Regions from separate parts of the Homo sapiens genome. Here regions 2, 3 and 4 are each reported to be linked to region 1. Evidence: microRNA targets listed by miRTarBase, many of them from high-throughput screens and not tested one by one. Region 1 holds a microRNA gene; each other region holds the end of a gene's coding sequence.

Region 1 (3,056 bases):
GGGACTTGGAGTGGGGGTGCCCCTGGCCCAGCCTGGCCCAGGGAGGAAGGCTGCTCTGAAGGGCTTGGGACAGTCAGATCCCCCATGGATCTGGTGTCTTATTGTGGTCTGTGGGCTGGTGCTGGGAGCAGCCAGCCCCAGAGGTCTGTGGCCAGTGTCCCTGCTCCCTAGGCCAGATCATGACCTTGGCTTGCCCTGTAGCCTTTGCTCTGGGTCTGGAGTTCCCAGAGGACTGGCTGCAGTCCCTGATTGACCCAGCAGACCTGGGCTGGTGATGTGGTCAGAGGGGGCAGATGGTTGCCCCTAGTCCGCAGCAGTGACTTCCAAGCTGACTGGCTTCCGTGGCTCGTGGTTCCTGGAGAGAAAGGTCCCACAGTCTGTGAGGCAGCGGCGACTCTGTAGAATCTTTCTCCACTAGGGGTTTGTTCCTCTGGTCCTCTCCTGCCAGCTTTTAGAGGGTTTGCCTGATGGGGCTAACAGTGGCAGTGAAAACAGTAATCATGAAATTGATGGCTGACAGTAACTGAGTGCATTCTGTGGGCCACACACTGTTTGGAATGCTTCATATAGATAAACTTGCTGAATACTTGAATTCTAGAGCGGTAGGCGCTGTTGTTATGCTCTCCCTTTTAGATGAGAAAACAGCATCTCAGAGAGGCAGATCATTTCCAGAGCTAGTGGATGCCCAGTGTTTATAGCATTCACCCCATGCCAGGCGTGTGACAGGGCTTTTGTACATGTGATCTCACTTAAGTCTCAAAACATACCTGTGGTTAGGCCTATTTTATGGAGAGCTACGAGCTAGTTAGAAGTGTGATACCATTTTACAGATGAGGAATCATTTCACTCACTGTGAAGTGCAAAGATTTCCCAGAGGTCTCATAGCTGAAGTGGGAGAGGTGTGATGTGAGCCCTTGGCCAACCTTGGCCTCAGATCGTCTTGTCAAGGAGAAACTGGAGGAGTGGCTTTTGTCTGTGAGCATATACTCTGCCCAGCCCTGTGCTTTGGGCTTTATATGGTATTTGTGTCCTTTTTTGCAGAGTCCGAAATTGAAGTTCAGAGGAAGAATTGCCTTCCACCGCATCTTATCAGACCCTATGGGTGCCAGGGTAGGATTTGAACCCAGGTCACTGAGCCCCTAGTGCCATGCATTCCTTGCTCACCAGGTTCCAGGCTGGGTGAAAGGAAGGAAAGACATAGGATAGAGTCACCTCTGTCCTCTGTCCTCTACCTATAGAGGTGACTGTCCTATGTCTTTCCTTCCTCTTACCCCTGAGCCTCAGGCTGCCCTGAGCATCTCTGCCTACAGCCAGTCCAGCATTTCTTGGTCCCTCCTCAGAGTGGAGGCAAGGCATCCTTTAACCCTGGGCAGGTGTGTGCTGGGAGAAGAAGACAGCAAGAGAGCCATGCAGGGGGTGACACAGCTACCAGGGACCTGCGTTAGCTAGCAGCAGGACGGTGAAGTCGGTTCTAGCTCTGCGACCTTGGACCACACTGTTCACTCCCATACAGTGGTCTCAGAAGGACGTCCACCTTGGGCTGTTGTGAGGATTAAATGAATTAATCCACGAGAAGCTCCTAGAATGGTGCCTGGTACTGTGTAAGTCTTGGTTGGCAGTCATGATTATGTTATGGAACGGAGGCATCCAGCCTCCCCCACCCCCTACTTTTGGTCCCCTCGAGCATTCCGGGATCCAGCTCCCCAGCCTGGCCCAGCTAGGATCCAGAACTTCAATGTTCTGGTTTCCAGCCTCTGTAAAGAGGTGTATGGAAGCGAGTGAGAGCACAGGGTTCAAATCCAGCCGTGCCACTCCATGGCTGTGTGACCTTGAGCAGGCTCCCCAACCCTTGTGAGCTCATTTCATCATCGGTGCCATGGGGATGATGATAATTCCCACCTGATAGGATTATTGTGAAGGCTGAGTGGATTAATTTGTGGGAAGCATTCATAACTGTTCTGGCATACAATAAGCCTACCGGAAATGTCTCCTCACTAAGAACAGTGCCCGACACATGGTGAGCTGTTGGTCTGTCTTAGCAATTGTAATTCTTAGTATTTCTGCCGGGACTTTGAAGGCCTTTGCCAGTTCACAGAACCGTGTCAGAGAGCACTAGGAGGAGATCAGGGCTGAAATTAGCATCTCAGTTTTACAGATGCAGAAACAGAGGTCGGGGGAGACATGCAATCAAGTCAGAACTGACAAGGGCAGCTCCCGGGCCCACTCCTCTTCCACGCAGTGGCTTTGCAGCCCTGAGCGCCTCCAAGGTAGACACACTGGAGTCTTTTCAGAGGTCAGGCTCTGTGCTTGTTTTTTTTTTTCTTTTGAGACAGGGCCTCCCTCTGTCACCCAGGCTGGAGTGCAGTGGTGTGATCACAGCTCACTGCAGGCTTGACCTCCTAGGCTTTAGTGATCCTTCCACCTCATCCTCTTGAGTAGCTGGGACTACAGGTGCATGCCACCATGCCTAGCTAATTTTTAAATTTTTTGTGGAAACGGGAGTCTCGCTATGTTGCTCAGGCTAGTCTTGAACTCCTGGGCTCAAGTGATCCTCCTGCCTCAGTCTCCTGAGTAGCTGGGACCGTAGGTGCATGCCACTGCCCCTGGTTCCCAGCCCACCACAGCTCACAGCTCTGGGAGTGGCAGGAAGGCTGGGCCTGGGCAGGGGGAGCAGCAGAAGTGCCTGCAGGGGTTGGCAGGGGCTGTGCTGCACTGGCCTGTGGGCCTGGGTGAGAGGTGAGGATGGATCCTAAGGGTATTGTGGAGCCGAGGAAAAGGTTTCACTCATCCGCCACCATTTACTGAACACCTCGTATGTGCCAGCGTTGCATCAGTACTGGGAATACAGCAGTGTACTTGCCAAAGTCCCTATCCTTGTGGGGCTAAGCAAGACCAACCCGAAACAGGTTAATAAGCAAGGAGCCGGTTAGAGGGGGAGGAGCTAGGCAGCGAATTCAAATCAGGTGACAGACTGGGCACTTCTTTAGATGCATGCGGCTGTGGGGAGGGCCTCTGAGCTGATCCCAGTTTGGCAAGGTGAGGCAGTCATGTGGGAT
Region 2 (3,000 bases), not on the chromosome of region 1:
GGGGCCTGTGTGTTGCAGAAAACCCGCTACGAGACCTACGTGCAGCTGCTGGTGGCCCGCCTGCACTGCCCCTCTGATGCTCTGGACCTGTGGGAGGAGCAGCTGGGGAGGGAAGCTGGAGGCACTCGGGAGCCCAAGCTCAGCCTGAAGAAGTCCCACTCGAGCCCGTCCCTGCACCAGGATGAGGCTCCCACCACGGCCAAGGTGAAGCGCAACATCTCAGAGCGCAGAACCTACCGGAAGATCATCCCTAAGCGGAACCGCAATCAGCTGTGAAGCCAGCACCACCTCAGAGACACTGTTCCCTGCTCCAGGGTAGACCTGAGATGAACCTCCCTGGAGGAGACTTATTTCAATGAGTCCACCATGACGGATGAGGCACCTCCTTTCCCTGCTGAAGGACAAACCTTGTTTCCCTGTGGCCCTCATTCTTGTGCTCCCTGAAGCTTTCCTAATATTGCTGTGCTCCCCACCACCCCCATGGCAGTCCCTCCGCAGCCCCAGTCCCTGGCCACGCCCAAGGGAAGAGGGAGGTGAGGACTTGACTTTCCTCCCAGAGCTCAGCCCATGTCACCCTCCAGGCCCCAGAATCCAGAGTGGCCTCATTTCCTAGACTTGCTGAGAACTCAGCACTTGTTTGAGAACCAGTGCTTATGTGGTGTGCCCTTGGCTTCTGGGGGAGAGCTTGGGGCAGCAGAGGCCCCTGGGCAGCCCAGCCAGGGGAGCCACAGCCCCAAGGATGGTCTTGCTCTGGGAATTAGGTGACCTTCCTGGGGAGGCCCCAGGAGAGTGAATCAGGGACTCTTGAGAAATTCCTAACCAGCCTCCTGTGACCCAGGGAGCAGGGTCGCTAAGGTCCTGCCCACTGAGGGGACAGCCTTCTGGGCAGGGACCTCGGGGGGCTTCAAGGGCTCTGCACGGCTGTGGGGCCCTGTGCCTTTGTCTCCTTGTGTCTCCTTTCCCCCGAAGTAGATGAAACAGTCTCACATACCCAACTGCTCATCAACAGAGCAGAGCTGATGGCATGAGTGAGGGCTGGGCGGGGTGGGGCCTCCAGAGCTTTGCAGGGAACCCTGGAACCCTAGGAACAAGGAGCCTTTGTTCCAACAGAGCAGAGAAGGAGGTTCTCTATGTTCAGACCACTGGAGAGGATAGAGAGGTAAAAGGTGGCGACAGTTTCCCTTAGGGGTCTGCCTGGCAGGAGCCACAGCTCAGGAGAGTTGTGAGGGATGGGACGGAGGCTGGCGACCAGGCGAGGCCTAGGCCAGGCTCGGGAGACTTTTCTGTGCTCCTTTCTACACATGCCTTAAACCTTCCTTCCTGTGGGGTGCCTGGACCCCTTCCCCATCTCTGGCAGCTCAGAGGGTCTCTGCTGCTCTCCCCTGGGAAATCCCCTCATCCTGCCCTCTGGCTGCCTCCCAGCTGGGCTTGTTCTCTGAGGGAGGTTCCGGAGACTCATGGACTTGGGGCTCTGCCTGTAGGAAGGAGGCTGGGCCGGAGGGACCAGCCACCATTGTCTCTGTTCAGCCAAGTGTGCAAGTAGGCTGCCCGCCAAGAGGGGGCCTCTGCTACCCGCTGCTGCCTGCCGGCTGACACACTGCCTCCCCAGCCTTCCTGCTAGGCCACCCTCCTCCCTTCCCATGCTTGTAACCAGCTCTGGGGCTTGCACCTCCACAAAGTAAGGTTGGCCCTTGGAGGCCATGTTTGGGTCTCCGGCCAGGGCCTAGGGCTAGGCCATGCACCCAATGGGTGCACAATAAATAACAGGTCAACAAAGAGGGAGGTGTGTCAGTGTGTGAGGAAGGGAGGTCAGGCAGCTAGGACCACCTGCAGTGTGGCAGGCTTCATCCCTCTTTGCTCCAAGTGTGTATGTGTGTCTGTGCATGTGTGTAGTGTCTGTGTCTGTGTGTTCATGCATATGCAGGAGTCACACGGTCATAGGCCATCAAAGCTGGAGGAGACCTCAGAATCATTCATTCACCTACTTGCTCATTTATTCATTCATTCATTTTGCAGATAATATGGGACGCTTTCTATGTGCCAGTACCAGGGGATTCACAAATGAATTAAACATGTCCCTGACTCCATGAGTTGACAATCTTGCCCACTGGTTTCCTGCTCTCAGTTTACAGAGGCACTTTTATCTTGCTGGGGAAGTGTGCTGAAAAGACACATTCCCAGCCCACACCCAGGGATGCTGATTCAGTCAGCCTGGGTCAGAGGGATAGATAAATATGTTTAAAGCTCCTTGGGTAATTCTGATGTGTAAGTAGCAGTTAGCTGCAGTAGAGTCCAATTGCCTCATTTGATTGAAGTGGAATCCCAGCATCAAGTGGACATGACTTTTGGCCCAAGACTGATGCTTACAAACTAAGTGGAGTAGGTTATTTGACCTCACTGAACATGCATCCTTTTTTTTTTTTTTTTTTTTTTTTTTTTTTGGAGACGGAGTTTCGCTCTTGTAACCCAGGCTGGAGTGCAATGGTGTGATCTTGGCTGACTGCAACCTCCACTGAATCAAGCGATTCTCCTGCCTCAGCCTCCCAAGTAGCTAGGATTACAGGCGTGTGCCACCACGCCCGGCTATTTTTTGTATTTTTAGTAGAGATGGGGTTTCGTCATGTTGGCTAGGCTGGTCTCGAACTCCTGACCTCAGGTAGTCTGCCTGCCTCGGCCCCCCAAAGTGCTGGGATTACAGGCGTGAACCACCACACCTGGCCTATGCATCCTTATTTCTAAAACCATGATAAAAGGTGAAAGTCTGAATGCATGTGTGTGTGACACTTTGATGCTCCTTTGCTCATGTAGAACCGGCACCTCTCTTTCACCTGAGCACGTGGAATCTTCAGAGCCAGATGATGGTGGCTGCCTGGCCTGCCATAGTCAATGCTGCCCAGGCACCTCTGCCTGGAGGGTCTGGGTTGTGGGCTGCAGTTATGACATGTGACCACTTGGAGGCAGGCTTGCATCTTTCTAGCTTCTGGCTGCTCAGGTGTCCTG
Region 3 (3,056 bases), not on the chromosome of region 1:
ATCACCTCCTAGACATATTATAGGAAAGCAGACCTAGTGGGCAAAGGACTGGGGGGCTTTTACAGTGGTGATTCTCTTTGTTGTTCCATCATCTGCCTTGCTTTAATCACCTAATAAAACTGATCCTGCAAAAATTCTGGGGGCCAAATCCTTACCTCTATTTGTAAATGATACTTATATTCAAGGAATTTGTTCCATTTTTCTCTTGTCCATAAGGGAAATCTGGCTAAAGCTAACCAGCTCCCAAGAGCCATGCACAGAAGATGTAAGACTAATTGAGCTTTGGGAAGGTACTAACAGCGGGGGAGGGGCCCTGTCTAGTTCTTGCCTGGTTTACTCTGAGGGGGAAATTCACCACTTATGCAGGTACGAGAGATAGCCTGTCAAGCACTTTGAAGATGCTGGCTGGAGACTTCCTTCTGTCTTGTGATGTCATCTTGCGGCTGATGAAATTCCCCTTGAGACTCTCTTTAAAGCAGCTTCCTGCTCTCCGCACTTAATCCCATGTGGTATAAAGTAAGGGAGGGGAGAAGCCACAGATATATCAAGAGAAAAGTACCGAGAAAGAAAATCAGTAAAGAATTAGAGATACAGAGAGGAGAAGTTTTTAAAAAAAAAAAAAAAAAACAGGAATATGAAAGAGAGGGAGCTCAAGTGACTGAGGAGGCATTTTTAACAATCAGGTTATCTGCAATATTAACCAGAAAAAAAATGGTAGCAAAATAGAGAAAATGGGCCATTTTTATTCCAGGGGACAAGCTGCACAAAGGAATGTTCTTCTATTTATTTTAAACAAATGACTGCGTGTACTGAATCTGACTGTGTGAAATAATCTCAGAATGGCAGCACCACTGGCATGGCGATGGTGCAGGTGGGTGCAGTTCCCTGTGGTCTCTATTGCTTGAAGAGAGAAAGAAAGTTCCCTATTATTATATTTAAGGCAGTTTTCAGAGCACTGGCATTCTTGTTTGCTCTGTTTTGGGGATATTCTATTTGCCAATCAGTTCACACTCATCAACCATCCACTTCCTGTCTTTCACTTCTTCAGGTGAAATATCACCACTCTAGTGAGCACCAACATGGTCAGAGTGCAAATAACTGTGATGGATACTTCGAAGTGAATAAGAAGGGAAGCCTGATTATTGCTGAGATCACCTTGGTATTGCCTTGTACATAACCAAGATGTTTCACAGTGCCTCCTTAAGTGCTCAGGAAAGCACTTTCATTTAATTTAATTTAAGCTAAATTCTGGAGATTTTGCTAAACATTGACATTAATGCTTCATGGCTTTTAAGACAAACTCATATTGCTAAAACTATTTGGCAGCAGTAAATTTATGGGCAGAGTTATTGCTCTTACATCTACTGCAGTACAAAACTCAGATGATCAGCCCTTCGATTGCTCATACTTATTAAAATAAATAAATAAACATGAAACATCAGCCACATTAAGGAGTCAGGGAAACTCCTGAGGAATAACAATGTCTCTGGAGATGTTTTCAAATGCTAACCTGAGACTCACACTGTGGTTTGGGGGTTTCATTATTATTATTATTATTTTATTTCAGAAGAGGAAAGTAATATTATTTCTCAAAATAAAACTTTGGCAGAGTATGAATCAGGGAAGCAGCCCACACATGGAAAACACAATCCACAATCTGAAAGTAGTCTAGGCAGGCTCATTTTTTTGTTGAAGGAATTCACATGGAGGCAATTCTGCTCAGTTCCAGAGAGAGATTCTTATCATCAAAAGCACACACAATAACCTTGCTTCACCACCTGCCACTTTCTCCAGTGGCCTCTTGTTGTGACCAGTAATTGAGAAATGACAAATGGGTATAGAGCCAAATCTCTAAAACAGGGACACCAGTGTCTCCTAGTATCTGGGTAATAACCTCCTTTCAGTCTTAGTCCACACCACACACTACCCTCCAGTCTCTCCTACTCTTTACTGTCACAGAAAAGACTCTCAGCTTTTATTCACACCTGCCTTCAGAAGGCCAAACCATTTTGTGCCTGAAAACTGTTACCCACTCGCCCCACACTTTACATAAGTATCACATATGTTCTTTCTACAAATTGGTATACAGGTGCCATTTAATCCATTCAAATTTGGAAGCTACATCTTCAAGGGTCTGAGAGAGCTCACTCCCCCCATATATTCCCCCTTTACATGTTTTCTTATAAGACATACAGTTTAATCAATTAACAAACTAAACAGCTTATATACTGGCAATATATTACAGATGGGTTTATGTCAGAGTAATAGATCACATGAAATGGACCATGTGGTACCCCAGTGCATTATGTCTTGGTAGAGCCCTGAGGACACTGACAGTAGCATCTCTAAGTAAGTAGTGCTGTATGAATACAGACACATGCGGATCTGTATCTACATCCATCTGACTAGGCCAAGGAGCAGGTAGATGCAAGATAGAGACACACACATGCTGGATGGGGCCACTGCACACCTTGTCATGCCATTTAAAAGGGCAGTTACAGGTTGCCGGTTTTGCAGCCATTAAAATTACACTTTATGGAAAAGGCTTCTCTAATTGTGTCTGATTTGCTTTCTGTAGTAAGCATCATTGGAAGAAGACCAAAGCAAGAGCAACTAGAAGTTAAATATACATTTGAGCTTAGCTGCAATACAGAACCCTGGGGAAGAAGCAGGCTGAAAGATTTATTTAATTTTAGGCTTGGATTCTCTCCCTTGCTGTTTTCTTGATGTTGTGTGTCTGCATTTGTGTGTGTGTGTGTGTCTGCGTGTGTGTGTGTTCCATCACATCATCTCCTGAAGAACGCTGGGTTTCGCAGGCAGGCGGCTAGTCACCTGCAACAACCCAGGGGTCCTGCCGAGGCTTCCAGGCTGCTGTCAGTGTCAGATGCCAGGGTCTGGTCGGTGGACATGGAGGAGATGTCATTGACAGACGAGGATGGAGGGAGACTCTCACTGCTGTTCACTGCTGCACCTGTGCTAAGAAAATGAAGACCAACATGACTCAATCTAGAACCAGACCCATCTTAATGCCATTCAGGATTCAGGGATGGGCAAAT
Region 4 (3,056 bases), not on the chromosome of region 1:
TTCCAACCTCCTGGTCTGGCCCGGGAATGACTGTGTGCATCTTGATGTTTAGGTTTGTCCACCCCCGTTTTGGGCCCATCAAATGCATCCGCACCCTGAGAGCAGTGGAGGCCGATGAAGAGCTCACCGTTGCCTATGGCTATGACCACAGCCCCCCCGGGAAGAGTGGGCCTGAAGCCCCTGAGTGGTACCAGGTGGAGCTGAAGGCCTTCCAGGCCACCCAGCAAAAGTGAAAGGCCTGGCTTTGGGGTTCAGAGACCTGGAATAGAAACTTGGATCTATGCACTACGTTTATCTGACAATGGGACAACCAGGGACTGCTCATGCTGTGACGTCACATCCTCTCACCATGCGTTAGCAACGACTTTCTCGCATACTAACTAGGTTTGACTGTATTACTCATACCAGATTTAAAATTAGCTAGCCTTGCAACAACGTCCTACTGAGAGGTATTGTCGAGCATTTGACATAAGACAGCGTGATGTTCTTTGGTGGTTCAAGTCTAAATCTGTACCACATTCGGAGATGCCAAATGATTAGACTGAAACAGGGAAACGGGGTTTTTCAGTCATTTTTAGTCAGTGGTTTTTCCATAGTGCTTTTTTCCTATGGCCAGTGCAAATTGTGTTAGCACACTTGCATATGTGCCGTATTAAGGGTTGACAATTACTACATCTTTATTCTCTAAATGTAGTATAATTTGCCTTTTAACCTTTGATCTGTATCTTGCAATAGAATGGCTTTGGTTTTTTTCTTAGTAAATAGGAGCCCACTTCTAAAGTCATTTCACCCCTCAGCCCTATTCTCTTTCTTAGATACCCTTTACAAGAGAAAACTTCCAAATGGATTTTTGCATCAATAGCAGTGTGTAGGTCTCTCTGGTTCTTTCTATATCATCATTTTATTATTATGTCCTAATATAAAGTACTGGCTCATAGGGCCAGGGTATTATTATAGAATATTATTCTCGCATGTAAACAAAGATATCTTTGCTTTAAGATGTGAGAAGAAATGAATTTACTTTGTTTGCATTAAGTTATGGAAGAGTTGTAATATATACTTTAAGAAAGAAGAGAAGAAAACTAGTATCTCTAAGCGGTAACTATGGCAATTTTGCAATATTTTCAGTAGTGCTAGTAATTTTTTCCTCCTTGAGTACACATTAAATGTACATAACATAGCGCGGTCAGGCTTGTGGCACAGTGCATTGAATTCAAAAGTCAAACAGCAAATTTGAATTCTAACAGAATTCAAAAAAAAATTTTTTTAGTCAGTACTACTAAGGCAGACACACTGATTACTAGGTACAAATCAAACCTTGATGCTAAAACTCTTCATCATTGTAATTTCAAAGCACTTACCTGCTTCAAAACATTGTAAACTAAGACTGAACACCTGTATAGTTTAAAAGCAACACTATCAATAGCATTTCAGCCATTTTGCCAGCCATGTGTAATCACAACTGCAGAAATAAGGAGAAAACCCCTGTTTTTTTAGTTTAGCTAATTAGATCTGTAACATCACTGGGATTGCTCTGAATGAATCCTGAGAGTTTTGTTTTTTATAAGCACCCTCACCACATGCCATAGCTTTGTCTCTTTTAGACACCTCGATGCAGCGGCTGGAAGGACTGGAGAGCAGCTGTTGTGCTGATCTGTAGCTGTCAGCTGTGATTCCTGTCACCTGAGTCAGTTTGGTCTGGAAAGCGAAGGCCTTCCAAGCTGTAGCAGATAGTGAGCTCCAGCTGATGAGAGAAGGCTTCAGTGGAAGAAGAGTGAGGACATAGGCAGAAGGAAGTTTGCTATTTCTTGTCAGTTGCACATTGCTTTATGAAGACTACAACAAAAGTGCTTAATCCCAGGCTGCTCATGACTTTCATTTCAGGTGGCCCTTGGGCACATTGACAGAGTTGCCCTTCCCTTCTTTGCAACACCAGGCTTCCTAGAGCACCCGGTTGCATGCTTTGCAGCTAGGTGGCAGTGGTTTCAGGGAGATCCAGTTGGATCCCTGCTTGAAAGCTTAAGCCAATGGTTCACCCATGAGAGGAAGTTGTCAGTGCTTCCAGGAAGATTGCCCACCAAAGGAACTGAATAGTTTTTAGATTTAAAGGCACCAGGATAGGGTCACTCTTACTCTGTAGAAAGAGACCGTTCTATACACTGTGACGGATGGGCCAGGGCCTCTGGACTTGCATTCTGATAGGTGCTTTAATTTAAATGTGCCCAAAGGGAGTGACTGTCTTCAGGAGAAAGATGGCTTGCATTAACCTCGATCAAGTGGGTTGTGCAGCCAGGTCAGGGAATACGGTCAGGGAGAGGATAGTGCTGGTCATGCCCCCGATGCAGCTATGCTCTGAATGATTTCATTCCTGAGAGTGATAGCATTCTGGTCCTGGCTGCAGTGGGGTACAATTTACGTCCTAAGTGGGGGCTACTCTAATTATCCCATTCAAATGGAATTTTTTTCAACATTGGATAGAAGGAATTGAAGAGTTGTAAGTAGTGATTAGTCTGCTAATCAGTTCTTCAGATGAGATATTGAATGGTAACACTCTGAGCTTAAAACTCAGCAGTGTGTCTGTGACCTCCACGCAAATCAGAGGAAGCAATGCATCCACGCTGAGCCTCACCATGTCTTCCTCCCAACTCTCTTCATACTCTCTGTGTCTTCCAGCTCTTCTTTCTCTGGCCGGCTCTCTTTCCTCTTCTCTCTGCATATGTGAGAACGCCTGGGCATCCTGGGTAACAGCAGCCCCAGCTGCCCTCTCCTGTTCCCTGTTCCAAGTCCCCTGCACTGACCTTTCTTGAGTCTCTCTGGCTCTGTGCATGTCTTTGGGACTCTGCTCATCTGGCTTTTCCTCTGTGTGTGCCTCTCTGTTTGCTTATGTCTCTGGCTCTGTCTTCCCCACCCCTCCCCTCACACACACACATACTCCCAAATGTAAGGCTCTGTGGCAGGTTGGAATCGGAGTAAGGCTTGAGATTCACTGAGTTCTGTAGGTAGGGAAAGAAGTCAAGGGAGTGGAGGTTCTATAAGGAATTAACAGCTGAGGACGG

What was found. Region 1 holds the annotated microRNA hsa-miR-641 (AAAGACAUAGGAUAGAGUCACCUC, at 1,192-1,215, shown strand). A microRNA usually pairs through its seed, bases 2 to 8, with sites in the 3' UTR of a target mRNA and lowers its output. Matches are read on the target gene's strand: a 7mer-m8 pairs with bases 2 to 8, a 7mer-A1 pairs with bases 2 to 7 and ends in A, and an 8mer does both.
Region 2: miRTarBase lists PSD4 as a target of hsa-miR-641. The part of its 3' UTR that is shown has no 7-base or 8-base seed match.
Region 3: miRTarBase lists MAPK10 as a target of hsa-miR-641. Seed matches in the 3' UTR shown: 8mer at 2,184-2,191 and 7mer-A1 at 1,292-1,298.
Region 4: the mRNA of SETD7 is a reported target of hsa-miR-641. Seed matches in the 3' UTR shown: 7mer-m8 at 2,631-2,637 and 7mer-m8 at 2,826-2,832.

Annotation. Positions count from the first base shown.
Region 1 is chr19:40,280,762-40,283,817 of GRCh38, reverse strand. MIR641 (microRNA 641) reads left to right here and starts at 1,177; the gene lies at 1,177-1,275. The region is part of intron 1 of AKT2 (AKT serine/threonine kinase 2); the gene reads left to right.
Region 2 is chr2:113,201,140-113,204,139 of GRCh38, forward strand. It overlaps PSD4 (pleckstrin and Sec7 domain containing 4), which reads left to right. Exons shown (of 17, transcript NM_012455.3): 17 at 19-3,000. The coding sequence ends at 276. Among named protein-coding and RNA genes, the nearest start is that of PSD4, 29 kb to the left of the region's middle. RefSeq lists an enhancer at 2,746-2,795.
Region 3 is chr4:86,014,400-86,017,455 of GRCh38, forward strand. MAPK10 (mitogen-activated protein kinase 10) reads right to left here. Exons shown (of 14, transcript NM_138982.4): 14 at 1-2,971. The coding sequence ends at 2,829. Among named protein-coding and RNA genes, the nearest start is that of MAPK10-AS1, 100 kb to the right of the region's middle.
Region 4 is chr4:139,508,840-139,511,895 of GRCh38, reverse strand. SETD7 (SET domain containing 7, histone lysine methyltransferase) reads left to right here. Exons shown (of 8, transcript NM_030648.4): 8 at 53-3,056. The coding sequence ends at 233. Among named protein-coding and RNA genes, the nearest start is that of SETD7, 46 kb to the left of the region's middle.